Linked DNA regions of Homo sapiens. The protein of the gene in region 4 interacts with the protein of the main gene of each other region in a biochemical or structural test. Each region holds a gene or a part of one and is shown on either strand. Other genes may lie near its edges. The genes, in order: CDK6, MIF4GD, CUL4A and SLBP.

Region 1 (2,711 bases), on a different chromosome or scaffold from region 4:
AGTCTAGGTGTGTATTTGTGTAAGTACACTCTATGATGTTCTCACAACGATGAAATCCCCTAACAATGCATCTCTCAGACTGTATCTCAGTCATTAAGCAACGCATGATTGTTGAATGAGTTCTTTTTTTTTTTTGAGATGGAGTCTTGCTCTGTTGCTTAGGCAGGAGTGCAGTGGCGCCATCTTAGGTCACTGCAACCTCCACTTCCCAGGTTCAAGTGATTCTCCTGCCTCAGTCTCCTGAGTAGCTGGGATTACAGGCGCGTGCCACCATGCCCGGCTAGTTTTCATGTATTTTTAGTAGACACAGGGTTTCACCACGTTGGCCAGCCTGGTCTTGAACTCCTGACCTCTGGTGATCTGCCTGCCTCGGCCTCCCAAAGTACTGGGATTAAAGGCATGAGCCACCGTGCCCGGCCAATTGTTGAATGAGTTCTAAGCTCACTTAGCTGTTATTTACTTTTTAAACACTAGAAGCCTGAAAAGGAATCTCTTAAAGTAAAACTTTAAAACACATTCTTTCTACCACATGGCCAGGTTGCAAATAAGAAGCACCAAAAAAAAAAAAAAAAAAAAAAAAAGAAAGAAAAAAAACACATTCTGCTAAAACTTGGAATTTAATGAATTTTACTCACTACAGTTATACTCATTTTACATTAAAGTAAAAAAGAAAATAGCCAGGAGAGTAATTCATCTCCAGAAAGCAGTTTAAAGTTATTGTTTTTATTATTTTTATTTGCTACCAATATTTTTATTGTAAGAAATACAAAAGGTATTACAAATATACAAACTATTTGCTCTTTTTGCCTCATTCAATTTAGCTTTCACATAAGTGAACACATTGGACAGTGATATTTCAACACCAATTTTGAAAAAAACAATGAACTTCATCATCTGACAATAAATACCTACATTTTCATTCTAGCACCCAGTAAGACATCCAGTTTCCAAAGGATTATTGGTATGCAACCCTCTGAATTTTCTGACATGTTACCTTTGCCACTGCAACAGAAACACCACTGCAGTTCTCCCTTTCCCAATAAGTCAGAGTAAGGGGCAGGTAAGAATGGCTATCTGACTTCAGAAACCCTGGGTCACAAAGCATCCCTTACTTGAGCTACTTTTAAAACCAGATTTTTAATGATAGGGTACTTAAAGTTTTGGTGGTCCTTGAATGACATATTTTACGTTACATATTTACCCTACTTTTCTATTCTCCTCCTCAGATAGGAAGGGTATAGATAAACTGGCTATATTTTCATCTGCCTCTTGGGAAAGGAGCAAGAGCATTCAGCTCAGAGCATTCTGAAGACAGTAGCCTTAGAGATAAGCTTTCTTTCTTTCTTCTTCTTTTGCTTCAAGAGGGCTTTCTGTGTGTAATGGAGGGATGGTTGCTAGAGTGAGACAGCCCTTCCCCTCTTGCTATGTCTATACCATACCTGAGGCCATTTTTCTTAGAGGGCAAAAACGTTAGAATAGGTAGGAAGGTTCTTGCTTTCAGAGAGCTGTGCTGCACCCACAGGGTGGACCCGACAGGCCACTGTGGTAACTCTCAATCTGTGTACAGAGAAAAGAGAAGCAACATCTGATACAAAGTCACCTGCCAACATTCTTATAAGACTGTGTCCCAGGCAGTGAATTTCCACACTGCTTCTTGGGTCTGCAGAACTCAAAGCACCAAAACAGAGCATTCTGTAGCAATATAAGCAAACGGAATAAGAATAATTATGCACCTTTAAGGAACATGCACCCTTATAAGTCTGTACCCTGATATGAAAATAGCAGAATGAATTTCAAGTATGAAGAAATACAGTAAAAGTGTGGCCTGTAGATGGAGAGAAAACAGCAGCCTGGAATGTGGTTTATATTCTTGATTAGTTTTTCTCTTGGTACCACAGCCAAAACTGAATGCTCTGTACAATGACTTGGTTTAAAAATCAAGATGCATACAAAGATGCTAGAGGCATTTCTAATGGGTGCCATGAGCACAGTCTGTGCCCAGCATCAGGAACCATCTCTAGATGAATGTGGCTAGGTCAAGTTGGGAGTGGTGGCCAGGCCTAGACAGGCACACCTGTGGTCCATGATGTGGAGGAAGATGGAGAGCACCATGTGGACAAGCCAGGATGGTAGCAGGGAACACTTTAGTGGTAGAAAGGAAGAGATACAGGGGACAGAGATGTAGAGGTGTGGGGATGTTGGTCATCTTGGGCTGGTTCACACAGCCTAGATGAGTATCTGATATACACAATTTCTACATTTCTAGAACCATGATTTCAAACACAGAAACTAACAAGTCAAATTTCCAAATTAGATTTTTTTTTTTTACTTTCAAAACATTTTCTATTATAAGTCAGAAGGAAAAAAGCTTACTGTATGTGACAGTCTTCCTGAAACCTAAGAGAAAGTTTTAACCAGGCCCTATGGCAATGCAGAAACACTAATACATTTTACAGTGAAAACCTACTTTAACACATCTCAAAATGATAATCGTATAAAACTTTCTAGTTCTAATTTGCACTCTACGTGAACCAATATTTTTCTTTTCTTAACACATACTGCTCTTCTATACCAAACACTTGCCCTTTAACCTTCAGATAAAAACCTCAAATACCAAAAAATGCAACAAGCTTTTGAGGTGTTGGGAATTGTTGGTTGTTAAAATCCCTTTTATTTTATAATAAATTATACAGGCAATCCTTGCTTTTTAT
Region 2 (2,638 bases), on a different chromosome or scaffold from region 4:
AGGGAACATGTGGCTACTCCTTAGAATTCAGGGAGGCAGGAGGCCCCAAACCCTGGCAGACTCTTGGACCAACTTGCCTATGTCCTGTCTCACCCAGGTCCCTGTACCCCTACCCGACCGGCGTCGCCGCTTCCTAGCCATGAAGTGGATGATCACTGAGTGCCGGGATAAAAAGCACCAGCGGACACTGATGCCGGAGAAGCTGTCACACAAGCTGCTGGAGGCTTTCCATAACCAGGGCCCCGTGATCAAGAGGAAGCATGACTTGCACAAGATGGCAGAGGCCAACCGTGCCCTGGCCCACTACCGCTGGTGGTAGAGTCTCCAGGAGGAGCCCAGGGCCCTCTGCCGCAAGAAACAGTGTGAGCTACTGCCACGCTGAAAACTACCTGTGGGTTAAGGATGTAGTTCCTTTGTAAGGGTGGGCAGGCCTCGTAAGAAAGATGTAGCAGCATATTCACTATCCGTTAATCCTTCTTTCTTTGAGGCTGGAACTTGCTCTCTCTGCCCCTATTTCCTTGTAAAGAGGGAGCACATTGACTTGGGAATTTCCTCCAGGAAACTCAGGGCTGTTTTCTCTTCCCTTAGGTTGGGGCGGACCTTTGGATATATAAAGGAAGCAGTTTTAGTATCAGAAAAGATTTATTAGAAAATTCTCACGCTGAACTGGTGTAGCATGTGGTGCAGCATTCAGTGAAACTGGCTGGAGGAAATAGGCTTGTTTCCAGAGTTGTCCTTATACAAAATGTATAAAAAGCAGTTTCTGGTGTGACTTGTGCTCTGCCTCCACCCCTTGACATCCCAAAATATCCCACCAGTGGCTATGCTTACCCATTTTACAGATGGGTAAACTGAGGCACCAAGGTAGTAGTTGCACTAATGGTTACACAGTGCAGTGGCTCTTGGGAGTTGCCCTTCTCTGCCTGGCCGTGGTGGGTTGTGGTGGGGAAAGGGGCTCAGGGCAGGACCACGGCATAAGTGGGAAACATCTCACCAGGAGATGGGAAAGTCTAGAAGGGAAGACACTCAAAGTCTGGAAGGGAAAAGTCTTTGGGTGAGGCAGAGACTCCACTGCCAGCTTTAGAGGTGGGTAGAAGAAAGGCCAGTGCTGGTGAGGAAGCCCTGATCTGGAGGCCTAGTCGGAGACTTCGCTGTAGTAATACTTGTGGGCAGCTGGCGTTGTCTTCCAGCCGGCCGCCCGGAACTCAATGATCTCCAGCAGCAGCAGCTGGGCCAGGGAGCTGAGGCCAGTTGGGAGCAGGAAGCCATCCCGGATCAGCACAAAGAGCTCATCCATGCGCTGCCCATTCATTTTCTCCAGCTGCTCCCCAACCCGGTGCAGCTGCAGCACCAAACAGTCCACCTGCAGGCGACAGTGTGGGTAACACAAGTGAACTGGGGCAGTGCCAGCCTCTCACACAGCATTTGCCAAGTGCCAGGTGCTGTGCTTTGCCTTTACACTCATTCCCTTGCTCCCTCCTTACCATCCAGTGGGTACTTCCACATCTTACACAGAAAGAAATGAGTTCCGGGACTTGCCTGAGGTCCCTCATCTGGCCAGGCTCCACTCAAGCCTGTCTCCAAACCACTTCTTCATCCCACTCTCCTGCCTCCCACACACTGCCTGACCCTGGTTTGGCTTTGGGGCCGTCTGTACCCACAGCTAGCCATGGCTTGCACAGCTGCCATCATACGTTGGCTTTCTGACTGAGAAGGAAGCTACTGAGCCAGTAGGTTTTGGCTGCTCTCTATTGGATAAACTCCAGACCTGGCAGCTTGTCCTATAACTGACAGGCCTTAAACACCCCCACAGTCCTGCCCCAGAAGTGACACAGTCCTCAGAGACCTCCGTGAGCAGTGGGCTGACACACGGCTGAGCTGGACTGTCCATCCTGCAGCCTTCTGTGCTTGTGCCAGGGCTGGGGCCACCCACCTCCTCCTCCTTGCTCAAACTGTCTGGCTGGGCCAGCCGGAAGAGGCAGTCATAGACAGGGTTCACCAGGGCCATCATGGGCATGTTGTTCACCTGTGAGGAAGAGGAGGGGTCAGAGCACCAGGCTTAGTGGCCAAGGGGAGCAGTCCAACCTGGGCCTCAGGAAACAGGCCATGTCTGCCTCCCAGGGTGGCTGCCGGGGCCTCACCCTCAGGTAGTCAAAGATGTTGCAGATAAAGGTGACATAGCAGACCCAGCCCTGCAGGGAGCGTGCTCGCAGCTGCTCCCGAGCCTGGTACTCCTGCTGCAGCCGGTTGAGGAGTCCACGTCGGAAGACACTCTGGCCTGCTTGTTTACTCTCTGCCTGTGAGCCAGGGAGAGGAAGGTGAAGGGTGGGGGGCGGTGCCCCTGTAACCCCACCCATCCTATGCCTCTCTCTCTCTTTGAGCTAGACCCTGTGCATCTCTGTCCTGCAGGCCAGGCCTTCTGCCCACTCCTGAAGCACCTTCCTCAAAGCAGCTTCCTTTCCTCTCCCAACCCCCAACCTGAATGATGGCGTAGCACATGCGTCCTGCTTCCTTGCTGAACACACAGTCCTGCAGAGAATGGTCCACAATCACATTGGCCACTTTCTCCAAGTCCACAGCACCCGGATCTAGGGGTAGAGATAGGAGGGGAGTCTAGAGCTGCTGCTTTATCACATTT
Region 3 (3,634 bases), on a different chromosome or scaffold from region 4:
AAAGCAGGTTTAAATATCTTTCTTATCTTTAAATGCAATCTCTGAATTTCAAAATAAAATGACTTCAGCAAATACATGCTCAGGTTTCAGGACGTGACTGCCCCGGACGCTGGAGTGCCTATTTCTAGGATCTGGTGTCATGAATGCAGAGGAGACATTCTCAAAGAGAAAGACTTTCTCAGAGCATCCAAGGTGGCAACGCAGGGTGAAAGCATTTCTACTCGGGCTTCCTGTTTCTGAGGCTGCACAAGCCATCGTCAGGTGGCTTGGGAGGGAGGACCAAAGTCCCCATGTGATGGGAGAACCCAAGACTTCCAGAAGCCCAAACTCCCAAGAGCTCAACATCCCTTTGCTTTAGAGAAACCACAAATGATACAGAGGAACAAAAGCCAAAGTAAACTGCCTCCTGAATTCCTTCTGTTGCTGTTTTTGTTAGTTTTTTTCTTTTAAACATTTTGTAATGGAATATTCTGAACACACAGAAAAGCAGACAATTGCACAATGAGCTCCATGTTCCATCTTACATCTTCAGCAGTAATCAACAGTCAATCTAGTATCGTCGTATTTCAGCTCTCTTTGCCCCCTTTCTCCTTCGAATTAAAAAAAAAATTTTACTGACTAGAGAAAGCCTATGAATTCTGAAATATATTTTGATATTATTGTGAAAAAATTGTACAGCTTAAAAATAGTATTATCATTTGAGATCTCATCTGGTTTTATCCTATTTTAATATGGATTAGAGGATACAAAGATGGTGATCACCCCTCCCTTCTTTGGCGAAGTCAAGCATCATTTCTTTTCTAAATTCTTACCTCATCTTCCCTTATGGAAATGCCCTCCTCCACCCATGCATGCAGGTGTGTCGGTTTTTAAATTTGTGTCCTAATAAGACTTGATAAAAACGCTTTCCACACACCCCTTGAGCAGCTTGAACATTTTGGTTGATTTTGCCTTATTTTCCCATATTAAAAAATTGTCTAGAAATGGGTGAGACTGTCTCAAAAACAAACAAACAAAAAAAACAAATATTTTTCTACCGATCAGTTCTGCAGGCTTGTTGGGTCTCTTGTTGATGAACGTCTCAAAGGACTCCTTCATCAGGTTGACGAACCGCTCATTCTTCTGGAAGCAGACCTCGATCACGTGGTCCACCTTGTCCTTGAAGTCCAACAGGTCTTGGACCATGTCTTTGTCTTTCTCAGGATTGATTACGATCGCTGTTCCAAAAGTCTACAAAAGCAAATCAATACCAACTCAGCAACATGTTTACAATAGCAAACAGTATCTTCTCCTGCTATCATATAATCAGGATAGTTTAACATAAATTACTCTTAGTAGTAAATACTCAATAACTTTAAAAGTTTCACAAATTGAATTCACATTTCAAAAATTAAGTGAATACACTTTTTTTTGAGGCAGGCCCTCACTCTGCGGCCGAGGCTGGAGTGCGGTGGTGCAATCACGGTTCACTGCAGCCTCAACCTCCCAAGCTCAAGCAATCCTCCCACCTCAGCCTCCTGAGTAGCTGGTGCTACAGGCTCAGGCCACCACATCTGGCCCATCTTTTTAAAGTTTTGTAGAGACGGGGTCATGTTGCCCAGGCTGGTCTCGAACTCCTGGCCTCAAGCAATCCTCCCACTGTGATTTCCCAAAGTGCTGGGTTTACAGGCATGAGCCCCTGTGCTTGGTGTGAATATACAATTAAATACACAATTAATGCATTGGTCTTACGATTCTGTTTCTGAGAGAACTTACAAACGACTGGAAAATGTCCGTTGCTTTTTAAAGAATGTTTATGTGTAAGTTCCTCCAAGACAAGTTAATTCCTATTAATTCAATATACCTCTTGGGACTTCTTGGCTAGTTTTCCTTCTCCATCACTTCTAACCATGAAAAGCTCACTTTTTTAGTTTGTACTTTTTTTTTTTTGTTTTGAGATGGACTCTCGCTTTGTCACCAGGCTGGAGTGCAGTGGCGTGATCTCGGCTCACTGCAACCTCCGCCTCCCATGTAGCTGGGACTACAGGTGCACACCACCACGCCCAGCTAGAGACGGGGTTTCACCATGTTGGCCAGGATGGTCTTGATCTCTTGACTTCATGATCTGCCTGCCTTGGCCTCCCAAAGTGGTGGGATTACAAGCGTGAGCCACTGTGCCTAGCCTAGTTTGTATTTTTAATTTAAAACTGTTATATTAAACATTCCTAAAAGTCTGTGTAGGGCACTAATAAACAGTTAACATTTGATGATATAAACTATATATGCCGAAGAGGAACTGAATACAATGATTGGATTTAAAAAATTCGTCTCAATAGAATGCACATGTGCACTCACACATCACACACACACGCGAGGTAGCTGGCTGGTGGAAAGATGCCAAGAGAAGGCTGGGCGCAGTGGCTCACGCTTGTAATCCCAGCACTTTGGGAGGCTAAGGCGGGTGGATCACAAGGTCTGGAGTTCCAAGACCAGCTTGGACAATATGGTGAAACCCCATCTCTACTAAAAATACAAAAATTGGCCAGGTGTGGTGGCGGGAGCCTGTAATCCCAGCTACTCAGGAGGCTGAGGCAGGGAACTGCTTGAACCCAGGAGGCAGAGGTTGCAGTGAGCTGAGATCACGCCACTACACTCCAGCCTGGATGACAGAGTGAGACTCCACCTCAAAAAAAAAAAAAAAAAAAAAGATGCCAACAGAAAGGGCACAGACTCTCCCAGAGAGGGGCGGTGTGTGGCTAGCAGGTGTGGGAGGGACTTACCTCTTACTCTACACCCTTTGGTGCTAACTGCATTTTGAAATAATGCACATACACTACAAGGCCCAGCTTTATTTTGATAACGGCATGTGGAGTTGAATATAAACTACTATTTTGTTACAGTATAACTACTTATTGCTGACACTCAGGGGTGATGGTCACTCACTGATTTTTATTACCCAGACTGGAAACTGCAAAGGTGAACTTTTCCTAGTTTTTAGCACACATTCCCATCCCCTGAAGACTGTCTCACTGGCAAAAAACCTAAATCTTCAGTAGCTTTATGGCCAATTTAGTGTGACTCAGTTATAAGTTCCAATTCTATCATTGTACGAGACCTTGTGGGGAGGGGTGCTGTGAGTGCTGGCTTTCCACAGCTGGACTGATACATGACTTCAGGTCTGATTATTCCATAAAGCAGCATGTAAGCTTTATCTTTTTTATTTAACGGAAATCTTTATTCAGATAATGACAGATTTGCATAATAGTAAAAATAGCAAAGCAATCCCAGTGTCTTTATTTCCACAGTTTCCTCCAATGGCAACGGTTTGCGAAACTACACAACAGTGTCTCAGCTGGGGTACTGACATGGCAGCGCACCCGTCTTTTTCACATGGCCCAGTTTACTCGTAACTCATCTGGGTGTGCACATCTAGACCTCGGCCGAAACCCCGACTGTTCCCGCAGAAGGCTACCTCCTGGGGCCTTTTATAACCACACACCCTGCCCCATCCCTACACCCTGGTAACTTTTCATCTATCCTCCATTTCTAAATTTTGTCATTTCCAAAATGTTATGCAATAACACGTTAAGTATCTGTGATTGGCTTTTCTTTTTTTCCTCTTAGTGTAATTCTCTGGAAATTTTGTTTATCTTTT
Region 4 (3,634 bases):
AATTTCCCAGCACAGAGGAGAAACTCTAATTGTTTGTTTAAAGAATGTGTCTGAGGAAGCGAGAGGCTCAGGACCAGAGGGGAGCTGAGAAGAAACCCCACATAGAGGGAGGGAGGTACACGATCATTCTCTCTACCTTCCTGGTCAGCAGGTATTGCCATGATGCAGCAAAAGTTCAGGCCTGAGACATTTCAACTAGGCACAAGTTTAAAGGCCAACGGGGCTGGGAGCAGTGGCTCACCCCTGTAATCCCAGCACTTTGGGAGGCTGAGGCGGGTAGATCACAAGGTCAGGAATTACATGGTGAAACCCCGTCTCCACTAAAAATACAAAAAATAGCTGGGCGTGGTGGCGCGTGCCTGTAATCCCAGCTACTCAGGAGGCTGAGGCAGGAGAACCACCTGAACCCAGAAGGTGAAGGTTGCAGTGAGCCGGGATCACGCCACTGCACTCCAGCCTCGGTGACAGAGCATCTCCCAAAAAAAAAAAGCCAACAGAGAAAGAAAGCCTTCCTTCCTTAATTAAGAACTTTTATTTTCATGGTTGAGCCGAAATGACTCAAATACTTTTTAGGATATTTATATTTAAAAAACAAATTCCAGAGATTATTGTAATTTTTAGGGGAAAAACAACTACAACAACAAAAACAGCAAAACAACAAACAAAAACTGTATTCCCAGATTGACTTTGCTTGAAAAAATAAATTCAATCCAGGAAGCAAACTCTTCCTTCCAGCTGCCTCCCTCCCAGTACAGAAGAACTCAGCACCGAGCTGCAGCAGCTGCTCTGCTCCCCAACAGCTGCTGGGGGACTTGGCACCAGACCTCCTGTCCCAGTGGTGCGCAGCTGCTCCAGTCACTGGACCAATCAGAGAATCACAGGACAAGAATGCAATAAAGACATACATTTCTTGCAAATCACATCCTTCTTCCGCTGGAGGATCCCAAAAATGCAGAGCCACCTTCCAGAGTTTGATTTGCTGGTCCCATGAACGTCGACTATACTTCTTAAATTTATTAGGGGTCTTGGGATGAATGCCAGGTTGTCGAAGGTGTCTACAGGAGAAAGATTATTCTAGCACATGCCCACATGCCACTCACATTTCCACATTAGCCTGAAGATTAACCAAACTATGAGATTAGTATTATTTTAAATATTACAGATCACCAGGCATGGTGGCTCATGCCTGTAATCCTAGCATTTTGGGAGGTCATGCCAAGATCACTTAAGCTCAGGAATTTAAAAATGGCCTGGGCAACACAGTGAGACCTCGTCTCTATTTAAAAAAAACAACAAAACAGAACAAAAAAACAGCTAGGGGCTGGGAGCGGTGGCTCACACCTATAATCCTAGCATTTTGGGAGGCCAAGGTGGGTGGATCACCTGAGGTCAGCAGTTCGAGACCAGCTTGGCCAACATGGTGAAACCCCGTCTCTACTAAAAATGCAAAAATTAGCCGGGCGTGGTGGCCTGTGCCTGTAATCCTAGCTATTAGGGGGCTGAGGGAGGAGGATCGCCTGAACCCGGGAGGCAGAGCTTGCAGTGAGCCGAGATCGTGCCACTGCACTCCAGCATGGGCAACACAGCGAGACTTCACCTCCAAAAAAAAAAAAAACAAACGCTGCTGGGTGTGGCAAATCACTTGAACTCAAGAGCCTGAGATCAGGCTGGCCAACATGATGAAACCTCATCTCTACTAAAAATACCAAAAATTAGCCAGTCATGGTGGCTTATGCCTTGAGTCCCAGCTACTCCAGCGGCTGAGGCAGAAGAATTGCTTGAACCTGGGAGGCGATGGTTGCAATGAGCCTAGATCATGCCACTGCAACTCCAGTCTGGTCAACAGAGCAAGACTCCACCTTAAAAAAAAAAAAAAAAAAAAAAAAAAAAAGCCGGGCACAGTGGTTCACGCTGTAATCCCAGCACTTTGGGAGGCTGAGGCAGGCAGATCACCTGAGATCAGAAGTTCAAGACCAGCCTGGCCAACAGGGTGAAACCCTGTCTCCACTAAAAATACAAAAAACTAGCCAGGCGTGGTGGTAGACACCTGTAATCCCAGCTACTCGGGAGGCTGAGGCAGGAGAATCACTTGAACCCATGAGGCGGAGGTTGCAGTGAGCCAAAATCGTGCCACTGCACTCCAGCCTGGTGACAGAGGGAGACTCCGTCTCAAAAATAAATAAATAAATAAAAAATCAACTGAGATCCTACAAAATGAACAAATATGTTTAAAAAAATTAAAAAATTAAAAAGCACTATCCGGGCCGGGTGCGGTGGCTCACACCTGTAATCCCAGCACTTTGGGAGGCCGAGGCAGGCAGATCACCCAAAGTCAGGAGTTCGAGACCAGCCTGACCAACATGGAGAAACACCATCTGTACTAAAAATACAAAAAAATTAGCCCAGGCATGGTGGCGCATGCCTGTAATTCCAGCTACTTGGGAGGCTGAGGCAGGAGAATCGCTTGAACCTGGGAGGCGGAGGTTGCGGTGAGCCAAGATTGCACCATTGTACTCCAGCCTGGACTAGAGTGAAACTCGGTCTCAAAAAAATCACTATCCGCTGGGCACAGTGGCTCACGCTTGTAATCACAGTACTTTGGGAGGACTACTTGAGGCCAGGAGTTCAAGACCAGCCTGGGCGACATAGGGAGACTCCCATCTCTATAAAAATTTAAAAGTTTAGCCAGGTGTGGCGGCATGCACCGCTGGTCCCAGCTACTCAGGAGGTTGAGGTAGGAGGATTGCTTGAGGCCAGGAGTTAAGACTACAGTGAGCCATGATGGTTGGGCGTGGTGGCTCACCCCTGTAATCCCAGCACTGTGGGAGGCAGAGACAGACGGATCACGAGATCAGCAGTGCGAGACCAGCCTGGCCAATATGGTAAAACCCCATCTCTACTGAAAATACGAAAATTAACCAAGTGTGGTGGCAGGCGCCTGTGGAGGCTGAGGCAGGAGAATCGCTTGAACCCGAGAGGTGGAGTTGAAATTGCGCCACTGCACTCCAGCCTGGGCAACAGAGCAAGATTCCGTCTCAAAAAAATGAATACACAGTGAGACATGATATAACACTGCACTTCAGCCTAGGTAACAGCAAGACTCGGTCAGGAGGGAAAAAAAAAAGCACCATCACATTGAATCTTACTATTCCTTTGCCAGCTATGTTCCAAAAAAGTAAAAAAAAAAAAAAAAAATTGTTTTTTTTGAGATGGAGTCTTGCTCTGTGACCCAGGCTGGAGTGCAGTGGTGCAATCTCGGCTCACTGCAACCTCCTCCTCCCAGGTTCAAGTGATTCTCCTGCCTCAGCCTCCCGAGTAGCTGGGACTACAAATGTGTGCCACCACGCCCAGCAAATTTCTTGTATTTTTAGTAGAGACGGGGTTCCACCGTGTTAGCCAGGGTGGTCTCGATCTCCTGACCTCATGATCCGCACTCCTCGGCCTCCCAAAGTGCTGGGATTACAGGCATGAGCCACTGCACTCAGCCAAAAGTAAAATTTTTTTTTTTAAGAGACAAAGTCTCATACTCTGCAGCCCAGGCTGGAGTGCAGTGGTGTGATTAATGGTTCACTGTAACGTTGAATTCCTGGGCTGAAGCAGTTCTCCCACCTGTCTCCCAAGTAGCTGGGACTAC

The links.
Region 1: of the proteins of SLBP (region 4) and CDK6, one has a biochemical effect on the other in vitro, tested with the Homo sapiens proteins (one large-scale study listed by BioGRID and IntAct).
Region 2: the proteins of SLBP (region 4) and MIF4GD interact in a biophysical measurement, tested with the Homo sapiens proteins (one study listed by IntAct).
Region 3: the proteins of SLBP (region 4) and CUL4A form a complex in vitro, tested with the Homo sapiens proteins (one study listed by BioGRID).

The regions. Positions count from the first base shown.
Region 1 is NC_000007.14:92,604,323-92,607,033, forward strand, and holds the end of CDK6 (cyclin-dependent kinase 6), read right to left. Parts: 3' UTR 599-2,711; downstream 1-598. UniProt on the Homo sapiens protein: Serine/threonine-protein kinase involved in the control of the cell cycle and differentiation; promotes G1/S transition. Phosphorylates pRB/RB1 and NPM1.
Region 2 is NC_000017.11:75,265,605-75,268,242, forward strand, and holds the end of MIF4GD (MIF4G domain-containing protein), read right to left. Parts: intron 2,589-2,638; coding exon 2,479-2,588; intron 2,298-2,478; coding exon 2,142-2,297; intron 2,027-2,141; coding exon 1,934-2,026; coding exon of another isoform or gene 1,847-1,933; intron 1,364-1,846; coding exon 1,136-1,363; 3' UTR 624-1,135; downstream 1-623. Other genes in the region: MRPS7 (small ribosomal subunit protein uS7m), read left to right, coding at 98-319. UniProt on the Homo sapiens protein: Functions in replication-dependent translation of histone mRNAs which differ from other eukaryotic mRNAs in that they do not end with a poly-A tail but a stem-loop. May participate in circularizing those mRNAs specifically enhancing their translation.
Region 3 is NC_000013.11:113,240,564-113,244,197, reverse strand, and holds part of CUL4A (cullin-4A), read right to left. Parts: intron 1,231-3,634; coding exon 1,038-1,230; intron 1-1,037. UniProt on the Homo sapiens protein: Core component of multiple cullin-RING-based E3 ubiquitin-protein ligase complexes which mediate the ubiquitination of target proteins. As a scaffold protein may contribute to catalysis through positioning of the substrate and the ubiquitin-conjugating enzyme.
Region 4 is NC_000004.12:1,695,297-1,698,930, forward strand, and holds part of SLBP (histone RNA hairpin-binding protein), read right to left. Parts: intron 1,056-3,634; coding exon 906-1,055; intron 1-905. UniProt on the Homo sapiens protein: RNA-binding protein involved in the histone pre-mRNA processing.